3 linked regions of the Homo sapiens genome follow. The protein of the gene in region 2 interacts with the protein of the main gene of each other region in a pairwise test. Each region holds a gene or a part of one and is shown on either strand. Other genes may lie near its edges.

What was found.
Region 1: the proteins of TSPAN1 (region 2) and SLC19A2 interact in binary tests that used the Homo sapiens proteins (3 or more experiments, as listed by UniProt).
Region 3: the proteins of TSPAN1 (region 2) and TMEM80 interact in binary tests that used the Homo sapiens proteins (3 or more experiments, as listed by UniProt).

The regions. Positions count from the first base shown.
Region 1 is NC_000001.11:169,482,904-169,489,813, forward strand, and holds the start of SLC19A2 (thiamine transporter 1), read right to left. Parts: upstream 3,042-6,910; 5' UTR 2,864-3,041; coding exon 2,660-2,863; intron 1-2,659. UniProt on the Homo sapiens protein: High-affinity transporter for the intake of thiamine. Mediates H(+)-dependent pyridoxine transport.
Region 2 is NC_000001.11:46,170,965-46,178,192, reverse strand, and holds the start of TSPAN1 (tetraspanin-1), read right to left. Parts: upstream 3,107-7,228; 5' UTR 2,784-3,106; intron 2,708-2,783; exon of another isoform or gene 2,608-2,707; coding exon of another isoform or gene 2,564-2,607; intron 2,465-2,563; exon of another isoform or gene 2,346-2,464; intron 1,966-2,345; coding exon of another isoform or gene 1,722-1,965; exon of another isoform or gene 1,705-1,721; intron 535-1,704; exon of another isoform or gene 372-534; intron 1-371. Other genes in the region: P3R3URF protein, read left to right, coding at 1,722-1,965, 2,564-2,607; P3R3URF-PIK3R3 (LOC110117498-PIK3R3 readthrough), read left to right, coding at 1,722-1,965. UniProt on the Homo sapiens protein: Structural component of specialized membrane microdomains known as tetraspanin-enriched microdomains (TERMs), which act as platforms for receptor clustering and signaling.
Region 3 is NC_000011.10:691,424-698,921, reverse strand, and holds the start of TMEM80 (transmembrane protein 80), read right to left. Parts: upstream 3,100-7,498; 5' UTR 3,095-3,099; coding exon 3,076-3,094; intron 54-3,075; coding exon 34-53; intron 1-33. Other genes in the region: DEAF1 (deformed epidermal autoregulatory factor 1 homolog), read left to right, coding at 3,875-4,163, 7,324-7,421.

The sequences.
Region 1 (6,910 bases), about 120 Mb from region 2:
TCAGGCAAAATAGGTGGAATGTTTAAAAAAATCTAAGAAAGGTAGTAAATGTCTGTCAAAACACATGCTACAATGATGAAAGGATAAAAAAGTTTTTAGAGATAAAGATCTGTTTTACTGAAAGTCTGGCCTTCAACTATTAACATACAGTCAAATTTTAGCCTGCTTAAAACTTACACACTGGTATCTGTTTTAAAATTAATGCTTTTCCTGAAATCTAAGAAAAAAACTTTTGAGAGTAGACAGAAGAAATCTTTTTCTCCTCTCCTTTTGTTTTAGGATTTAGTTAACAATAGCTCTATTCAAACCAACTTGGCCCTTCTGCAGTCTTCTAAGAGCAAATACAAACTTTAATACAAATGTCGCTGAATATGACTTAGCATTAGCTTTGCTTAAAAATCATGTAATTTTTTTTATTTAACTGTCCATGGCAAAAAACAAGCATTCAGTAAGTAATGAATAAGTTGTTCTATTTATTTCAATTATTAGTTATACAAAAAAACGTAGGGTTTGCCACAAGGTAAGCAGAGGAGAATCAGCCATGATTTGGTGGTCCTCTGAGAAGACACCCCTTCCCCAGACTACTAGATTTCTCTTCAAATCCCACGCTTTTCCTCAACTAATTTGCAATAAGAGAAGTACACTTATGTTTTTTGTTACACAATCAGCAAATAGTTACTACGCCTGGCAACTCTGCTTTATTTCTGTGCCCCCTGAACACACTTCACTCACCTTGAAAAGCTTTCTGATAGGACAGAGCACATGATCTTGGTAGCACGTCACACAGCAACCTTCTACCCAGAGCACATGACAAAACAGATCAGCTTTCAAATATCAACACTGGGAACATGTTTCTCTCCCTGTGTTTCACTATCCGGAAAGGCGCACAAACTGTGCAGATCACATGGCAGTTCACATGAAACTTTAATGGTCAGCTGTTCACAGCAGTATCAATTCTGCCTCAGTGGCTACACCTCAGATTCAGTGGTTGTTTTGGGTCTCCAGAATCATACTTTCTCATATCAGTGCAGTAATTTTCTTGTAAAATCATTCTGTCATGAAATTTGGCTGTTTTGACATTATTGCTTTAAATCAGTATTAAAACTCAAATAGGTTATGAATAACTGTTACGGTCGCTTATGTAATGATCCACAAGACTGAGAAACGGCCCAGCCACTCCATCCCACAACTGGCAGGTCAATAGGGTAATTTAAGGCCAGGCAAAAAGTCAGTGATACTTGCTAGAAGTGAACAAATGTCAGACTCTCAAGTGAAACCCTCAATACGTAAGTCAATACTGATTCTTAATTCTCTCTCAAGTGCCCTTGAAAATGACGGAGCATTGCAACAAACAAACTGCAAACAACAAACTATGAGTAACTATATCTCGCCAGTGTGCAAATGATTCCGGTAGTGCCATCTCTTGTTCTGACCTGTTATGCAGGGTTACTGAGTGGCTACTCAAAAGAAGTGACTGACTACTACCCACATAGAGAAGAGTAAGGTTTAAATGGGAGGAGTATTTTACAGCACCTGGGGCAAGGAGGCAGGGTGGAAGGAACAGGTGTAGGAAAAAAGAAAAAGCTCTCAAGTGGCCCCTTGACTGATAGTAGGAAAAAGAACATGAGACCTCAGCTTTCACCCTTTGTTGTATTCAAGGAAGAGGGTGTTGAATCGGCTTTATTTCGGTTTTGTGGAAGTACTTTGGGTTTAATTTCTTTCTCAGTTTATATATTGTCTTTCTTCTGCAAAAATCAAGTGCTGGTTTTGACCATGCACTTAAATAGGTCAGCACATTTCTAAAGTACACTATGCGCTTCTGAAGTACTTTATTTGTAAGCCCTCATCTAGGGAAAAAATCAATCAGCAAGAAACTCTTGATGATGGACTACGTGCTCTCAATTACCCTGAACATCACAGAAGGCCTTCAAAGACATCACCTTGTATCTGAGAAGCAAAACTAACATCTGTGAAGCAACAATTCGCAATACAAGAAACACTATAATTAAAAGTCAATTATGTTTCACCATCTGCCTTTATCCCTGGAGGTTGGTCTTAAGGTAGAGAGGGGCAGGATATCCTTGGACACAACCTCACCCAATTAAAAATCAAGACAAATTAAGATGTTCTGTACTTCTGTCCTGTCCTTACTTGATTAAGCCCACCCATTCTGCCAAATGCAAACAAAGTAAGGTATGGACAGGAAGCAGGTGAAGGAGGTAGAGGGAAGATCCTTTCAGAAAAGCAGTGGTTGCCTACTTTCAGTCAATGAATATTTACTAAGCCGTGTCCAAAGTACACTTTGCTGTTTTCACTTCTTTGTCAAAATATTGCCCCCTCGCCCCCAGCAGGAACTGCTGGACCAGTCTGGGCAGTCACGCTAAGCCACATTACAACACGATCAGCATACTGCCTGACGCACAAGGCACGGGGCCTCTGGACGCGTGTTCTGAGCCCTTCGCAGGAGACTCGTCCTACAGAGCCGAAGAAAACAGAAAATCATGAACACAAAGAAGAGCACGAAGCCGACCTCCAACTGGCAAAATCAGAAATCTCTGCCGAGAATGGCTCGAGCGCTTTTCTCGGTCCTCTCTTCCTCCGCTGCCCACCCGCAGGCCGGTCGCCCGCCCTTCCCGCGCCCCGCGTCCGCCGCGCGTACCTCCCTCTCGGTCAGGTTCTTGTCCGGCCCCAGCAGGTACGGGGTCAGGAAGGGCTCGGACGGCCTGAGGCTGGCGAAGAAGCCGTAGGCGCAGAGCAGCGCGGTCGGCAAGAACCAGCATTCGCGACGGACCCGAGCGGTCCGCAGGAGCACAGTGGCCGCCGCCGCCGCCGCCCGCCGAGACACCGGGCCGGGCACATCCATCCGGGGCGCGAGGGGAGGGGACCCGGCCCGGCCCCTTCCTTCTCCTCCTCCGCCAACTGGAGTGAGGGTCAGGCACTTGTAACCGCGAGTGACGCCTTCTCCCTGTAAGGCCAGGACGTTCTGGACTCGCCGCCGCCTCCGGCTACAGAACCCCCAGCTTTACCCTACAGACGCCTCTAGGGTCGCTGCCTGATCGCCCAGTTTAAGGGAGACCCGTCCTAAGGCCCACCCTCTGCCACCGCCTCCACTCCGGGAACCAATCACAGCGGACGCCGGGAATACTTGCCTGCTCTTCCATTGGTCGTGGGTCACACGACGTGAACTGGGGCGGTGGCAGCACGCCAGGCCTCTGACGTCCCAGGGCTCAAGCGCGGAGGACATGTGGAACTCCACTCCAAAAGCGGCGGCTTGCGGCGGAGCTCTCTCTAGTGAGGCGGCCAGCTGGCGTTCGTGGCACACTTGCTGTCGGCTCCGCTCATCTGTTGGGAATGCGTCCTGTGGGCCTAGTCCTCCGCTGGAAGAAACGCGCTGTTCTCCCCAACCACCGTTTATCATTCTTATTCACCGTCTCCGGAATGTCCATTCAGTTTCCGCTCCTGAGAGACTTAGTGACTGAGGCCAGGCAAAGATTTCACCTTGGGGAGGGGGAACGTTAAACCTTTCCTCCAGCAGCTTTCGTGTTTTAAATTGTATTCATCCGCCATGGAAAGACATCAGAAGCCCAGGATCTAAGAGACAGACTGAAATGAAGAAAGTAGATAATATTGTGAGAATAATGAACAAGCTGGTCACTGAACAGCAGAACCGTAATGGAGTCCCAGTTAAAGGGTTTTAACTTTATTTCGTCACTTTTTGCAAGCATGATACAAAGAAAACAAACACCTAACTACGCTACGGTTTATAGTTAAAAGGAAGGTGGAAGATCCTGAGTCATTACAGCAATCACAAAACATGATGGATTTCTTCATTTAAAAACACAAAAGAGGTCTTGGCATAGTTTTCAAGGGCAAAGCATGACAAGACTCTCCAGTGCTTTCTTTCATCCCCCTCTGTGTGCCTTTTTCTGCCTGACTCACAGCCTGGCTCAATCCTAATCTTTCTACTGCAAAGATGCAGCATTTAAAGCAATTTTTCCTGTGCAGTATTTGTAGAATGACAGATCCTGCCAGAAGCTCTTGGAAACATTTTGGAACTATCTTGCTTTTCTGTATGTTATGATCCATCTAGCACCGTTTTCCTCCTGTGGTAGCAAATGACACTTTTTTCAAGCATCAGCAGCAGAAATGAGTCTACCAGATGGAATAAGATACTGGTAAAGGGAAAGATTTGTTTCTAAGACTGCACAAATGAATGCACCCAAATCTGTGAGTTGATTAATCTGTGAAGAAATACAACTGGCAGTATTTACATATCTCAATGAGTCTCAAAGTGTGGTCGAGGAAGCCCTGGGGGTCCTTGGGACCCTTTCAGAGGTTCCACGAGCTCAAATCTATTTTCATAACCATGCTAAGTCTTTATTTCCTTTTCCACTCCAGAGGCTATATAATGTCTGATGACATCATCGCTTTATAGGATGAGAGAATACGTGCTTGTATATTCTTGTGTTTGTAAGACTTTCCAGGTTTAATTTATTACCATATGGCAATTTTCAATAAGTATAACCCACAAAACCCAACAGATTTTTGGGGCACCTCTAACAAGGGTCCTAAGACCAAAATGTTTGAGGACTGCTAATCGATATTATTCAATTGTCTAGTCCCCTAAACTCCAACCCTTCTTATCAGGACTACAGAGAGAAAACAGGTGGTCTTCTTGACAATCGCTTTGTATTTACATTCAGTGCTTTAGTAGAAGAGAAGAAAGAAAGAGAAAGCAAGCCAGAGAGGCCTCGGAAAGAGAAGCCTACTTATTAAAAATAGCTTTCTGGCTGGTCACGGTGGCTCACTCCTGTAATCCCAGCACTTTGGGAGGCCGAGACGGGCGGATCACTTGAGGTCAGGAGTCTCAGACCAGCCAGGCCAACATGGCGAAAACACGTCTCTACTAAAAATGCAAAAATTAGCCGGGCATAGTGGCATGCACGCCTGTAGTCCCAGCTACTTGGGAGGCAGAGGCAGGAGAGCCACTTGAACCCAGGAGGCGGAGGTTGCAGTGAGCGGAGAGCGAGACTCGCGAGTACTCGTCTCAAAAAACAAAACAACAATAACAAAAACAGCTTTCCATCCCTTCCCTGAGGCTTGGGTACCTGAACCACGTTAATCTGTAAATCACTGCTTCTGTAACTTTTCCTTGGTATAAATCACATAGGCAATGAGGTTGGGTATAAACAGTAATTGTCCTTGAATTGGGTAGATGTTTTCTTATTATTTTTGTCTAAGAGGTCATTGCGATAGGCAGAATTCTAAGAATGATCCCCAGTGACGCTTGCCCTTGTATAACCCCCACCCATTTGAGTGTGAGGTGAAACCTATGAATTTGATGAGGCAATACTCCTGTTATTATGTTACGTTTTATGACAGATGTGAGATTTTCCAGGTGGGCCCAATCTAATCACAACAGCCCTTTAAAAGCAGAGATTTTCCGTCTGCTAAGAGCAGAAGAGGAAGTCAGAGAGATTTGAAGGATGAGAAGAATTTGACGTGCTGCTGTTGGAGGGGGCTACATACCAAGAAATGTGGGCATCCTATAGCAACTGAAACTGGCTCCTGGCTGACAGCCAGCAGAGAATCAGGATATCAGTCCCAGAATCATAAGGAACTGAATTCTGCTAAAAACCTAAATGAGCTTGGAAGTGGGATTCTTCCGAGAAGAGCCCAGCCGGGTCACCATCTTAATTTTGGTCTGCGAAACCGTAAGCAGAGAATCCACTCAAGCCCACCTGGATCTACAGAACTGTGAGCTAAGCTGATGTGGTAATATTTTAAAGCCGCTAAATTTTTGTTCATTTGTTGTGCAGCAATAGGAATCTAACACAAAGGTAAATAGAATATATTTTTTAAATCGAGGCAATATTCACATAACATAAAATTAACCATTAATTAAGTGTACAACCCAGTGGCATTACTACATTCATAATATTGTGAAACCATCACTTCTGTCTAATTCCAAGACATTTTCACCACCCTACAGGAAACTGATACCCATTAAGCAGTCACTCCCTGTTCCCTCCTCCCCTTAGTCCCTGGCAAACACTAATATGCTTTCTGCCTATGGATTTGTCTATTCTGGAGGTTACATACAATTTGTGACCTTTTGTGTCTAGCTTCTTTCACTTAGTTTAATGTTTTAAAGATTCATCCACATTGTAGCATGTATCAGTACTTCGTTCCTTTTTATGGCTAAGTAATATGTGTATATACAACATTTTGTTTATCCATCAATTGATAACATTTGGATTATTTTTACTTTTGTCTATTGTGAATAGTGCTGCTATGAACATTTGTATGCAAGTGTGTATTTGAATATTTATTTTTATTTCTTTGGGGTATATACCTAGGAGTAGAATTGTTGTGTCATTTGGTAATTCTGTGTTTATCTAAGAAACTGCCAAACTGTTTTCCACAGGCTGCATGATTTCACATTCTCATAAGTAATGTACAAAGGTTCCAATTTGTCCACATCCTTGCCAACACTTATTTTCCTTTTTATAGTAGCCATCCTGGTGGGTGTGAAGTGGTATCTCATTGTGGTTTTGATGTACTTCTCTAATGACTGATGTTGAGCATCTTCTCATGTATTTGTTGGCCAATCATATAACTTCTTTGGAGAAATGCCTATTCAAGTCCTTTGCCCCTCTTTGATTCAGTTGTTTGTCTTTTTGTTGTTGAGTTAGAAGAGTTCTTTATAAATTCTAGGTACTAGACCTTTGTCAGATATGATTTGCAAATATATTTTCTTCCATTCAGTAGGGGTAAATAGAATATTGAGAGACTTTTTATATAGTAATATAAAAAAGCATGAAGGGATGTGTTTTGCAAAAAGTAAGATTACACAGTATTATACAACTATGTTATACACTTTGGCTCTTGGTTTTCTCTCTAAGGAATA
Region 2 (7,228 bases):
TAGAGACAGGGTTTCACCATGTTGACCAGGCTGCTCTCGAGCTCCTGACCTCAAGTCATCCACCCACCTCGGGCTCCCAAAGTGCTGGGATTACAGGCGTGAGCCACCGCACCTGGAACCTTTCTGTTTCATTCTCAGGAAGAATTGGGACCAGATTACATTCATCTATGGCCCTGGTGCTTGGCACATAAGAAGTTGTCAGTGAACATTTCCTGAGTGAATGAGTGCAGAATAATGAGAGTTAAGTGCTCTGGGTTTTGGATCTTGATCATCATGGATTTGCTTCCTGCCTGCCTCTAATTGTGTGACTTCACCTCACTGAGCCCCAGTTTCCTTATACAGTGGATCCTCCTTATTCACAGATTCCATACCTGTGAATTTGCCTGCTTACTGAAATTTATTTGTAATTCCCAAACCAGTACTTGTGGTACTTTTGCAGTCATTCATGGACATGAGCAGAAAGGCAAAAAATTTCAGCCGTCCAACACACGTATTTCCAGCTGAGGTCTGTTGAGCAAGAGGACTCTCTGTCTTCTTATTTCAGTTTTCATAGAGTAAACAAATGTGCTTTTTGGTGGTCTATTTAGTGACGCATATTCTCACATTTTTTGGTGTTTTTTGCTGGTGATTTTACTGTCTAAAATGGTCCCCAGTTGTAGTGCTGAAGTGCTCTCTAGTCTTTCTAAGTGCAAGAAGGCTGTGATGTGCCTTATAGGGGAAATATGTGCTTTAGATAAGTTTCATTCAGGCACAAGTTATAATGCTGTTGGCTGTGAGTTCAATGTCAATGACTCAAATATAGATAGATAGTTAGATAGATAGATAGATAGATAGATAGATATATTTTTTTTTTTTTTGAGACAGAGTTTCACTCTTGTTGCCCAGGCTGGAGTGCAATGGTGCAATCTGGGCTCACTGCAATCTCCACCTCCTGGGTTCAAGCTATTCTCCTGTCTCAGCCTCCTGAGTAGCTGGGACTACAGGCACCCACCACCACACCCAGCTAATTTTTGTATTTTTAGTAGAGATGGGGTTTTGCCATGTTAACCAGGCTAGTCTTGAACTCCTGACCTCAGGTGATCTGCCCACCTCGGCCTCCCAAAGTGCTGGGATTACAGGCTTGAGCCACCATGCCTGGCCAACAATATATATTAAATAAGGTGTCTCCACACATAAAATCAGGTTATATGTATAGATCAGTTGACAAAAATATTGTGACCAGAGGGTTTCAGGAACCTAACCTTGCATTTACCCTTTGTTCAGTATTTAGTGTTTGTGGCGACTTTATAGAACATTACTGGGAATAATGAGAATTGACTGTATATAAATAGGTATAATGATGGCATATCCTTGTAAAGTAGCTGAGATTAAATGAGATAACGTTGGTAAAGTGCTCAGCACAGTGTCTGGCACGTAGTAAGTGCTCAAAAAACATTGTTAATATTGTTACTATATGGATAAGTGAGAAAGTGAGGAAGTGAGTTCCGCCTCTAGGGCCTCTTTTCCCAAGGGGCCAAACTGAGGCTGTCTGGCTCTTGGGCTGGCTTTTAGGCCAGACCCAATAAAGAAGATTGTGAAGGAGCCTGACCCATGAGGAGGGGCCAGGGCCCACGACTTGTAATAAAGGGCCCTGCCCTTATGCAGACTTTGTATGTCATAGAGGCCTCAGCTACCCTGGCCAACAGCACCCCCCAGGCACACTGCAGAAGCTCCCTGTGCCCATGGGGCCATCTCGGCTTGTCCGTGGCCCTCGGCCCCAGGGCATGCGTTCCCCCTACCGCAGGCCAGGTATGGGCTGGCCCAGGCCCCGATTTCCCAGGATGTTCAAGTGTAGCCGCAGAAGATATCAACAGGGTCTCCGAGGTCGAACTGCCAGCAGTGCAGCCATCAATCCTGCCACCAGGGCCATGGGTATCAACAACACCCACACTGACACCACCATAGTGTGGATCTTCCCACCTCAAGGTTAGCCAGGGGGCCTGTGAGCCAGGGTGGGGTTTTAAAAAACAGAGCCACTAGGCTGGGTGCGGTGGCTCATGCCTGTAATCCCGGCACTTTGGGAGGCCAAGGCGGGCAGATCACAAGGTCAGGAGATCGAGACCATCCTGGCTAACACGGTGAAATCCCATCTCTACTAAAAATACAAAAAAAAATTAGCCGGGCGTGGTGGCACACGCCTTTAGTCCCAGCTACTTGGGAGGCTGAGGCAGGAGAATTGCTTGAACCCGGGAGGCAGAGGTTGCAGTGAGCCAAGATCGCGCCACTGCACTCCAGCCTGGGTGACAGAGCTAGACTCTGTCTCAAGAAAAAAAAAAAAAAACCAGAGCCAGTGAAGATTTCCCTACCTGGTTCTGTTTAGGCACGCCAAAGGATGATCTCTGTGAAATAGCACCCCTACATATATGGGGGACTCCTGATGGCAGGCACCCCAAAGTGCTGACAGCCTTAATGGAGGATGGATTGGCTGGAAGCAGAGGGTTTGGGGAGGGGCTGAATCCAAGAGGCAGGGAACTTCCAGAACTGCTTCCTTCCTCAAACTCTTCCCTCTCCTTCCTCTCCTCAGTTCTCAGACATCTCAGGCAACCTGGGATTTTTCTGATCCTCTAGAAGTGCCCAGAAGCTAGCCCAGAAGCTTGGTTTGCCCTGGACCTGCATCTCCTAGGGGCCGTGTGGGTGGTGAACAACAAATACAGTCATTCTGCTCAAACTGCCTTATTCCACACAGAGGTGTTAACCAGCTGACTATGCAGGGCGTGAGGGGAGGGTTATGGCTGAATACTTACAGGGAAAGGCTTCAGTGACCGCAGCAGGGATCATAGTTTAAGACAGCAGGAGGACAGGACAAGGTCAGCAACATAGACCATCTTTGGTCTCAGCTCTTGATCTGCCCCATGAAGTAGGGGCTCTCTTGCCTTACACTCCTAACTGCACAGGGAGAAGGGTCTCTGTAAACATCTTGGAAGGTATTGGGAGGCACAGATCAGAGAGGGATAGGATGAAAGACTGAACCCTGAGAGTACACAAGTATGAGGTGGATGTGAGGTGGATGTGCCTCTGTGTGCCTGTGATGGTCAGCGTGTAGGTGTAGCTGCTGGTGTGTGTGTCTGAGGCCGGGAGAATAGGAGTATCAGTAGATGTGGCTGAATGTGCCTTTGTGATTTAATGTGCCTCTGTGACTGACTGTGAGTGTCAAGGAGCGTTTGTGAGGGTATGGGTGTGCCGGAGAGGACATCAGCCCTGGTAAGAAAAGTGAAGGTCAGGAGGGGGATGGGGAACAGCCTAAAGGAGGAGAACATGGAGAAGGGTGAGATTCTGAGAAAGGCATACTACCTTCGGCCCTTCAACCATTCTCTGAGGTCAGTGTTTTCCAGAACTGGCAGCTGAGCTGGGGTGCTTAGGGGTGGGGCAAGACTGAGTTTGAGCCCAGAAAGTAGGGAGGGTGCTAAGCTCTCTGGCCTGGGGATTTTCCATTTGGATTTCTGAGTGTGTGCTCATGTGTCACTGGCTGTAACCGGGTTTCTGTGGGGTTGTGTCTTAGTCGCTGGGAACATTTTGTAGGACTCTGTCTCGAATATGTTGCATCATGCATGGGCTAATACGTGTTGCACCGGTCCGAGATCTGGCTGCATTTCCAGGCTACCTTCCCAAGGGGCTAGGGAAGGGAGTGAACCCTGAGACCTTTGGTGGCCTGGCCCCCTGGGGTTCAGGAAGTGTGGCTAATGTCCTTTGCTGCCTGTGAAGGGAAAGTGAATTGTGCTTATGTCTATCTACCCCAACTCTTGCCAGAGACTGGGACCCTGAGGGGGGTTGAGGCAGAGAATTCACTGACACACCATGCCCAGACGGTGCTGGGCTCCTCAGGTTATGGGATGGGGGTTGCTGAACATCAGTCAAAGCTAGAAGGTGCTTGGGCCATGCTCAAGGGCCCAAGAGGGGCCATACATATAAAGATACATGACACAGTTCACAAACACATGCAGACATGTAAATATAAGTGAACTCATAGACACATACTGCAACAACCACACACATGCATGCAAGCACATACTATAAGCAGATATACGCAGACACAAATGCATAGATCCCCACACGATATATGTAACAACACATACGCATGCCTCTAAATGAACACAGACAGAAACATGCATGCACCCAGACACAAGCACACAAGCACCCAGATGCAGACACATGCCTTCACACTCATGCAAACCCAGGCACACACAGACATACACGCATGCAGACACACTCACCAGACTTCCCTGCCCCTGCGGCCCTGGGACCCAGAAGCCTCCCTCCCCTATATGAGTGTGTAGTATGTGTGTGTGCATGCACTCATGCCCACACTTGTGTCTGTGTGTATCTGTGTCTGTGAGAGTGTGTGTTTGTGCTCGAGTGTGTGTATGATGGGGGTGCTAAGCTGTGGGAACCAGATGACATCATCTCTTCCAGCTATTTTTAGCTGTATCTGCGATGATGGCTTCTTCACTGCCCCTCCCCCTTCAGGTTCCTAATTCTCCTCCCCATCTAGGCTCCCAGAGGCAGCAGCAGCCAGAGGGCACCCACCACCTCAGTTTAGGTGGCTCCCGGATGAGCGGGTGCAGCCCACTCTCTCCCACCCTGCCAGAGTTCCCTGGTGGCTGAGAACACCAGGCTCTCAGGCTGGAAGGGCCTGGGTTAGCTGAGCTGACCTAGATGGTCTCCACCCCTTAAGGTGCCTCTGCTTCTGCTTTTCAATCTGCAACTCTGTGTCAGTCAACAGTGCCTGCTATGTGCCAGGGATGGTACTAAATTCTGGAGATACAGCAGTGAGCAAGGCAGTGGGAGTTCTTTCCCAGAGGAATTATAGCTCAGTGAGAGGCACATTACACAGATTACACAAGCTCTTCATTAAATCGTGAGGAGGTCTCTGAGTACTTGTAACAGGGGCTCCGTTTGCGATGATGTTCTCTGCCTCTCTCTGTTCTTCCTTCTCCCATAGGTGAGATAACCTGAGGAAATCAGAGGGAATACAGCCCTTACCTTGCACCCTTCATCCTAACAACCATATCTCCAGAATTCCACAGAGCAGTGCTTCCTTCTCACACCCTAGGCTGTGCTCCCAACATGGCACTAACACACCATCCAACTAATTGGTGGCCCATGATACTCATATCTCCTTTTTCTTTGTTTGTTTGTTTCTTTTTTCTTTTCTTTTTTTTTTGAGACAGCGCCTGGCTCTGTTGCCCAGGATAGAGTGCAGTGGCGCAATCTTGTCTCACTGCAACCGTCTTCTCCCAGAGTCAAGTGATTCTCGTGCCTCAGCCTCCCTAGTAGCTGGGACTACAGGCATGTGCCACCATGCCTGGCTAATTTTTGTATTTTTAGTAGAGATGGGGTTTTGCCATGTGGGCTAGGCTGGTCTTGAACTCCTGGCCTAAAGTGATCCATCTACCTCAGTCTTCCAAAGTGCAGGGATTACAGGCATGAGCCACCTGGCTCAGCCCTTTCCCCTGCCTAGTTTTTAGGGACAGGGTCTCTCTCTGTCACTCATACTGGAGTGCAGTGACCTGACCTTAGCTCACTGCAGCCTCAGTCTCCTGGGCACAATCTATCCTCCCACCTCAGTCCCACAAGTAGCTGGTACTACAGGTGCAGGCCACCACGCCTAGATAATTAAAACATTTTTTTTGTAGAAACAGGTTCTCCCAGCTACTCAGGAGGCTGAGGCACGAGAATTACTTAAACCTGGGAAGTGGAGGTTGCAGCCAAGATCATGCCACTGCACTCCAGTTCTTGGGCTCAAGTGATCCTCCCGCCTCAGCCTCCCAAAATGTTGGGATTACAGACGTGAGCTACTGCTTGCCCCCTACCACCTCACTTTTCTTTGAAATCTTCCTGTAGTCAATCCCTGGGAGGCAGGCCACTATTCCTCATCTATAGATGAGAAAACCGAGGCTCAGAAATGGACAGCTCTGGACCACACCTCACAGTGCCTGGGGAGCAGCCCAGGGGAGATGGCAGGCAGGTGGAGAAGGAAGTGGTGGCACACTGGGACAGTTGGCACAGGTGCAGGAGGAGCAGGCCAGGCCAAGCCACCGAATCGGGAGGTGAGGGGGAGGAGGATGATGGCCTGAGGGTTCATGCCAGGAGGAGGGCTTCCCGCTCCAGCCAGCCTCAGGCAGCCACTGGAAAATCGGGTTTGGCAGCTTCAGCCATGTGCTGCAGGACTGGAAGAAGGTCCAGGCTGCTCCTGGGAGGCAGCCTAGCACGGGCTCTTCCTCTAGCCCTGAGTTTCACCACCTGGCTAGTTGGGGGAGTATTACTTTATAATTCTGGGACCCTTTGGACCGTGAAGAGAACAGCTCTGGGCTAGAGGCAGGAGCCCGGAGCTTCAGTCTTGGTTCTGCCCCAAGCCCTGATCTGATCCTTGGAGTGTCCTGGCCCCTCTCTTCGCCTCTGTGGCTCCGCTCTAGAGAAATAGGTTCCCCAGACCCCAACTCCTGCCCCCGAGATTTTCCTGGGAGTCTGACTCAGGCACAGGAACACAGAGTCAGTGGGTAAGGGCACGAACAGACAGCCCCTGGGGCGCCAGGCTGGAGGTCGCTTGTCACTAATAGGTCAATGGCCGGAAGCCCAGCTCCAACCCCACAATGCAATACCGGTCACCCCACCCTTACCAGTGCCCTCACCCACACCCCCACTTCCGGCCTCTGTTCCTTCCTCACCTCTGGGGAAGGCTGCAGGGCTCCCTAGGGAATGTCCCCTGGTTCCTCCACTGGCTCTCTGCCCAGTGCTTAACCCTTCTTCCCACACCTACCCATTCAGCCAGGGCAGTCTCCCACAAAACTTTCTCTCCCTGGACCATGGGGCAGTGCAAGGAGGACAGGAAGCTGGGTGGAAGGACTGCAAAGGAGACTGCTTTTCCTGCTACCCTCAGGTACTGAAGCCCAAGTAAGAGTTTTCAGTAGAGAGGGAGTAGACTGAGTGTTGGGCCCTAGGACTGGGCTTCCCTGGGTACTATCCCAACCCCTGAGCCTCGGGAGAGGTGGAAATGACCTTCCTCTGCACCGGCATGCCCAGAGAAGAGAGCCTGGAGCTGAGACTTGCAACTTCTAGAAAACAAACACAAAACTGAGGCCAAGAGAGTGCTGACTACTATTACCAACAAAATTCATTAAACACAATTTTAAAAAATCATGAAATTCTAGATTCATGGAGTTCACAGTTATGGAATCTTAGCATCACAGAA
Region 3 (7,498 bases), on a different chromosome or scaffold from region 2:
GGTGCTGTCCTGGAGGGGCACGCAGCAGGATACCACTGTGGAGGATCCTCTCCCTGAAAGAGAAAGGGGCCGTGAGCAAGGCCTGACAGCCACCAGGATGCTTTCCCGGGTCTCGCTCCACACTGACAGGAACCACCCCTGCTTTATTTTCCTTTGATCTCGTATTTGTAGAAAGCAGCAAACATATACCGTGGGCCTGCCACTAGATAGCTCCCGTGCCTCTCTAACCATCCTTCAATGAGGCTAGGAGTCTCTGCCTTTCAGAACCTGAGGCTGGAGACAGCGAGTACCGGGGGCACCGGGGTGGGAAGTGAACCTGGGCCAGACCCAGCTGGCCCTCAGGGAAAGCAGCACCCTGGAGCCCACCCCAACAGCTGCTCTCATTGTCTGTGGCTCACCGTCTGTGGCTTCTCCGTATTTGCCACACATATATGACTAGATGAAAACCTTTTCTGACTTAGGTTGTAACAAATCTTTTTTCATGATTGATGAGACATTTGCTTTCCTCTGAAATTTTATCCCCAAATATCCCTCCAAAAATAAGGATTTTCCAAACCAGCAATGCAGCTGTCCAGTCTTTTTATCATGCAACCTCTTGGGCCTTCTCCCACCCCCACCTGAGAGATGACAGGAAGCCCGAGGAGTGAGTGGAGTCTCTTTCCTCCTTTTTGATTCTGAGGTTTTGCATCTGAAGACGCCTCTGACTCACCCTGGATCCACGCTGACCTGGAGCGGACTAATTGTCTGAAAAGGGCTCAGGCCAGTTGCACGTGTGATATGTGCACGTCCCTCCATGTGTAGATACCTCAATACACATCTAGAATTGGGTGGAAACCTCTCATAAAAGGAGGCTCAAGCTGCACCGCTGGGCGGCAGGCAGGACAGCAACCTGAACACAGCCTCTGTTCTATTTCCCCTTCAGCGCCAGGGAGGGCAGGACAGAAACCTGGCGTTGGTGAGATTTTGTGGCTGATCCCACAGCTTCTTGGGCAGATCTGGGGCCTTCTGTGCCAGAGTTTGTGGAATCTCACACAGGCAAGAGTTTTAAGCCAGTAAATACAGGACATCGGCATCAGAGACTCAGAACTGGGCTCCTGGAAGAGGCACCACAGGATGGAAGCAGGAAGCCAAGTGCACGGCAGACCACGCCGCATCGCGTTCCCGGCAGGCCACTCTTTAAACCCGATCTGTTCTTTTCCAGGCCTTAGCTAAACCAGGCCACCTAAATACCTGTCATTATCTGTGATGATTTCGCATTAATTGGGGTTTTTGTCCCTTCTGTTCCTTTTCTTAAAGGCTGGCTTCTTAAACACTTCCAATGTGTCTGCTAGTTGCTCACTGTTATAGATTGAAGTTATGGGGCTTGGGGGAAAAACTGTATAAAAGCCTTAAGTGATGTAACATTTTAATAATTAATATGAAGGGCGGCTATAACCAGATACGCTGTTCTAACAATTCCAGACCTGCAGGAGCTCATTCTGACCGAACGTAGCCTTGGCTTTCAGGACAACATTTTTTGTCAGTGACTTACTATAATCACAATGTGGCTACGAATAGCTGTGTCAGGCAGAAGTTAAACATGGAAGTGAAAGAGAACAAGTGTTTTCCCTGATGTAATGGACAAGATGTGTTAAGAAATCTTGTTTTGGTATACACTTAGTTTTTTTAGAGACAGGGTTTTGCTCTGTTGCCCAGGCTGGAGTGCAGTGGCCTGATCACAGCTCACTGCAGTCTCAACCTCCTGGGCTCCAGTGATCCGCCAGCCTCAGCCTCCCACGTAGCTGGGACCACAGGCTCCCTGAGGTAATTTTTTTTTTTTTTGAGACAGAATTTCGCTCTTGTTGCCCAGGCTGCAGTGCAATGGTGCGATCTTGGCCAACTGCAACCTCCGCACCCCACCCCCCCCACCACCACCACCGGGTTCGAGCAATTCTCCTGCCTCAGACTCTCAAGTAGCTGGGATTACAGGCATGCACCATCACGCCAGGCTAATTTTGTATTTTTAGTAGAGACGGGGTTTCTCCATGTTGGTCAGGCTGGTCTTGAACCCTCGACCTCAGGTGATCCGCCCGCTTTGGCCTCCCAAAGTGCTGGGATTACAGGCGTGAGCTACTGCGCCTGGCCTTCCCCGGGGTAATTTTTAATTTTTTTTTTGTAGAAGGGGGTCTCGCTCTGTCGCCCAGGCTGGAGTGCAGTGGCGCCATCACGGCTCACTGCAACCTCGACCTCCTGGGCTCAAGTGATCCGCCAGCCTCAGCCTCCAGAATAGCTTGGCCCACAGGGGTGCGCCACCGCCTGGCTGATGTTTACAGTTTTTTTTTTATAGAGGGGGTCTTGCTATGTTGCCCAGGCTGGCCTCAAATGATCCTGCAGCCTCGGCTTCCCAAACTGTCAGGCTTACAGGCCTGAGCCACTGCGCCCAACCTAAACTTAATTTTTAACCAAATGAAAATACACAAAACAAACCTGGTTACTAGAGGCTGTCCTGCCTATGGAGTAGCCATTCTTTATTCCTTCAAAACAATGCACCTAATTACTAGAGAACACGCACGAAGGTTTGGCACTTCAGCGCCCGCGTATGGGAGTTCTGGCTGTACCCACAGACAGCAGAAGGCGGCTCCTCTGCAGGATGGCCGATTTACTGCTTTGGTCTGTCCCTTCCTCCTCTCGGAGGCGAGTCTCTCAGGCAGGACGGCTGAGGCACCGGCGCCCGCGATTTTCTTTGGCGAGAGTTCCAAGGCTACCGAAACCCTGCGCCCATCCCGCCCACGTGTCTTCACAAAAACCACGCGCGGGACAAGAGCTGCCGGGGACTGGGGCCCCCAGAGCCGCTCCGCACCCACCCTGCCCGGGGCCAGGCGCCCGCGCGCGGGGGAGCTCTTCGGGGTGCAGGACGCCCGCCACCCAGGCCAGGCCAGGCCGCGCTTCTCGATGGGGTGACGGAGCTGTCTCGCTCACGTAGAGACGGTGGCACGGCCCCGTGAGCGCACCGAAAGCGGAAACCGGATTGTCACCACAGGGAAACGCCGCGCCCGCCGCTGCAAGCCCGGAAGCCCCCACCCCGCCCGAGCTCACCTCGCCGCGGGGCCGCCATCTTACCCGCCCCGCCCGCCGGTCCGTCGCGATCCCGGCAGCCTCTCGGCCCGCGCGCTCGCGCTCCTTCGGCCATTTTCGCGTCTCCTGACGAAGGGGCCCGACCGCGCCGCGTTTCGGGAGCGGACGTCCGAGCCACGGCCGAGGCCCGATTAGTCCGTCCGGCACCGCTCGGGCACTTTCGGAAGGGAAGAGGTGGAGAACCGACGTTCGGGAGCATTCGGCCTCGGGGACATTCGGCTCGTCTCGGCTCGGCCTCGGGCTGACTCGGCTTCCGCCGGCGGCGGGAACGGGCGAAACCCGCGGCACTAAGCTCTCTCTGAGAGGCAGAATTGCGCCGGCCGCCGGCGAGAATCTGCCTAGAGCCGTCCAGCCCTGTCGGCCGGGGACGACAGCCGCCTCAGCCTGTCAGGACAGTGAGGAGAGCAGGGGCCGAGTCTCTCGGAAGCCCTCGTGAGGACTCGGACCTATTCGGACTGATTCGGCTTCCCACTTCGGGGAACTTCGACCCTCCTCGGTTCAGGACTCGGTCTCGGCTCGGCGGCTTCGTGCAGGTTCGGCTCCTACTCGGGCAGCCTCTGTTCGCCTCGGCTCCGCTCCGCGGGCGGACTCGGCTCGGCTCTGCTCGGCGGCTGGCTGCCTTTTCGGTCCCTATTCGGGCGGCGGCTTCGGGCGGCCTCGGCCCAGCTCGGGCGTCCTCTTCGGGCCCCGCTTCGGGCTCCGCGACCGGCGCTTCGGGCGGTCCCGGACGGCGCCTTCGGGAAGGCTCGGCGGAGTCCGGATGGAGGACTCGGACTCGGCGGCAAAGCAGCTGGGCCTGGCTGAGGCGGCGGCGGTGGCGGCCGCGGCCGCTGTGGCGGCGGCGGCCGCGGCCGCGGCAGGAGGCGAGGCGGAGGAGCCGGTGCTGAGCAGGGACGAGGACTCGGAGGAGGACGCAGACTCGGAGGCGGAGCGGGAGACGCCGCGGGTCACGGCAGTGGCGGTGATGGCGGCGGAGCCCGGGCACATGGACATGGGCGCCGAGGCCCTGCCCGGCCCCGACGAGGCCGCCGCTGCCGCAGCCTTCGCAGGCAAGTGCGCCCGCCGGCCTCTCGCCTCGTCCGGTTCCCGCGCGCCTACCCCGCGCGCCTGCCCCGCACAACTGTCCCAGGTGACCAGCCCGCCACACCTGTCCCTCACACCTGCTCCACGTGACCAGCCCGCTCCACCCGCCCTGCACACCTGCCCCTCACACCTGCTCCACGTGACCCGCCCGCCCCACCCGCCCTGCACACCTGCCCCACGTGACTAGCTCACCCCTCACATCTGCCTCTCACACCTGCCCCACCCGCCCCTCACACTTTCCCCACGTACCTGCTCCAGGTGACCAGCCTGCCCCACCTGCCACAAATACCTGCCTCGCACACCTGCTCGACGTTTCCAGCCTTCCCCACCTGCCCCACGTGATCGGCCTGCCCTACCTGCCCCGCACACCTGCCCCACATACCTGCCCCAGGTGACCAGCCTGCCCCACCTACCCCAAACACCTGCCCCGCACACCTGCCCCTGGTGACCTGCCTAGCCTCACCTGACCTGGCCCTGCCCTGCACACACCTGCCCCCTGCCCCCCTTTTCTTTGTGGCAGCCCCGCCTCCTACTGGTCCCCCCTGTGCAGCTCTGCCCCTGCCCTGCCTTCGTCCATCCTGGCTCCCCCCACCTGTCCTGGAGAAGCCCTGGGGTGGGTGGGCACCTGTGGTCACCAGGAACCCCCCACTTCCTGAGGGCCAGTTCAGGCATGACCTGAGCGCTGGGGAGCCAGGGGTGGGCAGCCTGCTGGAGGCCATGATGCCAGAGGTCAGCGTGGCTGTGTGGTGGCCCAGGGGGGCTGCGGAGCCACCTGTGCAGGCTCCCCTCCCAGTCCTCCCTCTTCCTCTTGCCTTTTTCCCTAAGGACCTGCTCCTCCTGCCCCGCTTCCTGTCGGGCTTCCTTTGGGGAGGCTGCTGTGGCTTTCCAGTCCACATTTTTATATAAGCTGCTTATAGTTTCTTGCCACACAGGTCAGTCTCCTTCTCAGGCTCCAAAACACTGGGAGCCCGTGGCAGAGCTCACAGATGCCCTACGGGGCTGGTGCCGTCCACCCACCTCCTGTGTCCCGCCCTTGTGTCCGTGGGGCATAGACTTCCCCACCCACTGGCTTCCTAACGCACTGTATTCTTCCCCATTGGAGTTCCCGAGTGTCCCCCAGGGACTCACAGCTCAGTGTTGAGACCCTTGGGAGGAGCTTCTTGTTGCGTTGTGAGGCACTTTTCCCCTACGGAGCTTTGCGGGTTGAGGAACTGGATCCCAGTCCTGGTGTGCTGGGTATGTCAGGGCATTGCGTGTGCTCTGGGTGCTTGTTCGGCCTGGGGGCTGGGTGGGGGCCAGCAGCGTCTGGGCTGCCCTTGGTCAGCTGAGTGGCCCTCGAAGGCAAAGGGGTCACTGCTGCTTGTTTGGTTGGTTAAGAAAAAAAAGTGAGGGAAGGCTTTGTGACTCTCAGGGGTTGGCGTCCGTCGCTAAACTCTGGTTTGACGTTGGGATTTGGAGCCATGAGGTTGATTTCAGGTTTTTGTCATTTTTGCACGTATTTTTCTGAATGCATAAAAGAAAAATGATGCTGTTCATCATGATGTCAGAGAAATGTGCTGACGTGTGTTTTCTTCTGAAAAATATGGTAGTTGTGTTTTGATGTGGTAAAAGCACTTTAATACTTTTTAAAAATTACGAACAGCTGACGTCAAGTGGTTTCCAGGTTTAAGTAACTCAGCAGGACACGCTGCCGCCTGAGGAGGCTTTGGGCGGCTGCTCCCAGGGCTGCCATGGGCCTGGCGTTGAGCACTCACTGTGGCCGCGCGCCGCATGCCGGGGCTTGTGGTGCTGAGAGGCGAGGATGAGGGAACCGTGCACCTGGTGTGGTCTGGTCGTGGAGACAGACAGCAAACATGCCTTTTTTTTTTTTTGAGACGGAGTTTCGCTCTTGTTGCCCAGGCTGGAGTGCAATGGTGTGATCTCAGCTCACCGCAACCTCCCGCCTCCCGGGTTCAAGTGATTCTCCTGCCTCAGCCTCCCGAGTAGCTGGGATTACAGGCATGTGCCACCACGCCCGGCTAATTTTGTATTTTTAGTAGAGATGGGGTTTCTCTATGTTGGTCAGGCTGGTCTCGAACTCCTGACCTCAGGTGATCCGCCCGCCTTGGCATCCCACAGTGCTGGGATTACAGGCGTGAGCCACCGCGCCCGGCTGCAAACAGGCATTTTTAGGGCAGTTTGGTGAGTGCTGGGTTAATGGTATGGTCAGGACTCATTCAACCAGTATCTTTTAAGCATCTGCTGTGTGCCAGAGATTGCCCTGGACACAGGACATTCTAGAACTCTGGGTGACAGAAGAGCCACTTGCTTGGCCTAGGAGCATCACAGGAAGACTTTGCAGAGGCAGAGAGGAGGGTGTGGGGGTGTTGGCGGCAGAAAGTGTTTCTCTAGAAACACTCCAGCATGTAGAGGCTGGAGCTGCAGGACCTATCTGGGATGACAGGGGCAGGAGGTGGGGTGCAGCTGACCTCTGTGGTAACTGCCCTGTGTGCAGATGCTGCTGAAGGGCCTGTCTGCATGCCAGGGGGCTGAGTTCCATGTTGTAGGGGGTGCGGTGGGGTGGCACCAAGGGACATAGGCAGGTTAGATGTACTTTTTAGGAGGAAGGGGTCAGAGACCAAGGGCAATGGCTGTGAGCATGGGGCCGAGGTCACCTGACGATGGTGGCCTGACCCCTGCGGTGGAGGAGAGGCAGGAATGGAGCTACAAGAGTGGGTCCAGGAGGTGTCCTCACCTGCGGGGAGGCCGAGAGCTCCTCGTAGGCATAGGGCACACCTGACCAGCAGAACCCACAGCTGTGCCGCAGAAGGAGATAGAAGCCCCGTGGTGGTTTGATAGAGCTGGGGCTGGCTGGGGTGGCGGGTTTGTTGTATGCATTTTTTACTGCACGTAAAAGGCTTTACTGGGGAAGAATAGATTTCCTCTCTTTTTCCTGGAAGAGCCGAATGACTTAGACAATGGAATAGAAATGTAGGTCGAGCGTGTTCATGGAAGTGTTAAGATCTTCCTGGTTACAAGGGCACACACCTGAGGGGGAGTCACTTTGTTTGAAGCACCTGAGCGAGGCTGTTCGCTTTGTCCATTCTGGCTTTTGTTGCTTGTTAAATGAGGCTCCTTCTGTTGCAGAGGTGACCACAGTGACAGTGGCCAACGTGGGGGCTGCTGCAGACAATGTCTTCACCACGTCTGTGGCGAACGCGGCATCCATCTCAGGACATGTTCTGGTAAGCTGCTCCGAGGGGCACAGCCCAGGGCGGGTGGTGCCACGCTGGGGGCCTCCGGCTTCCCCGAGGCTCTCCCG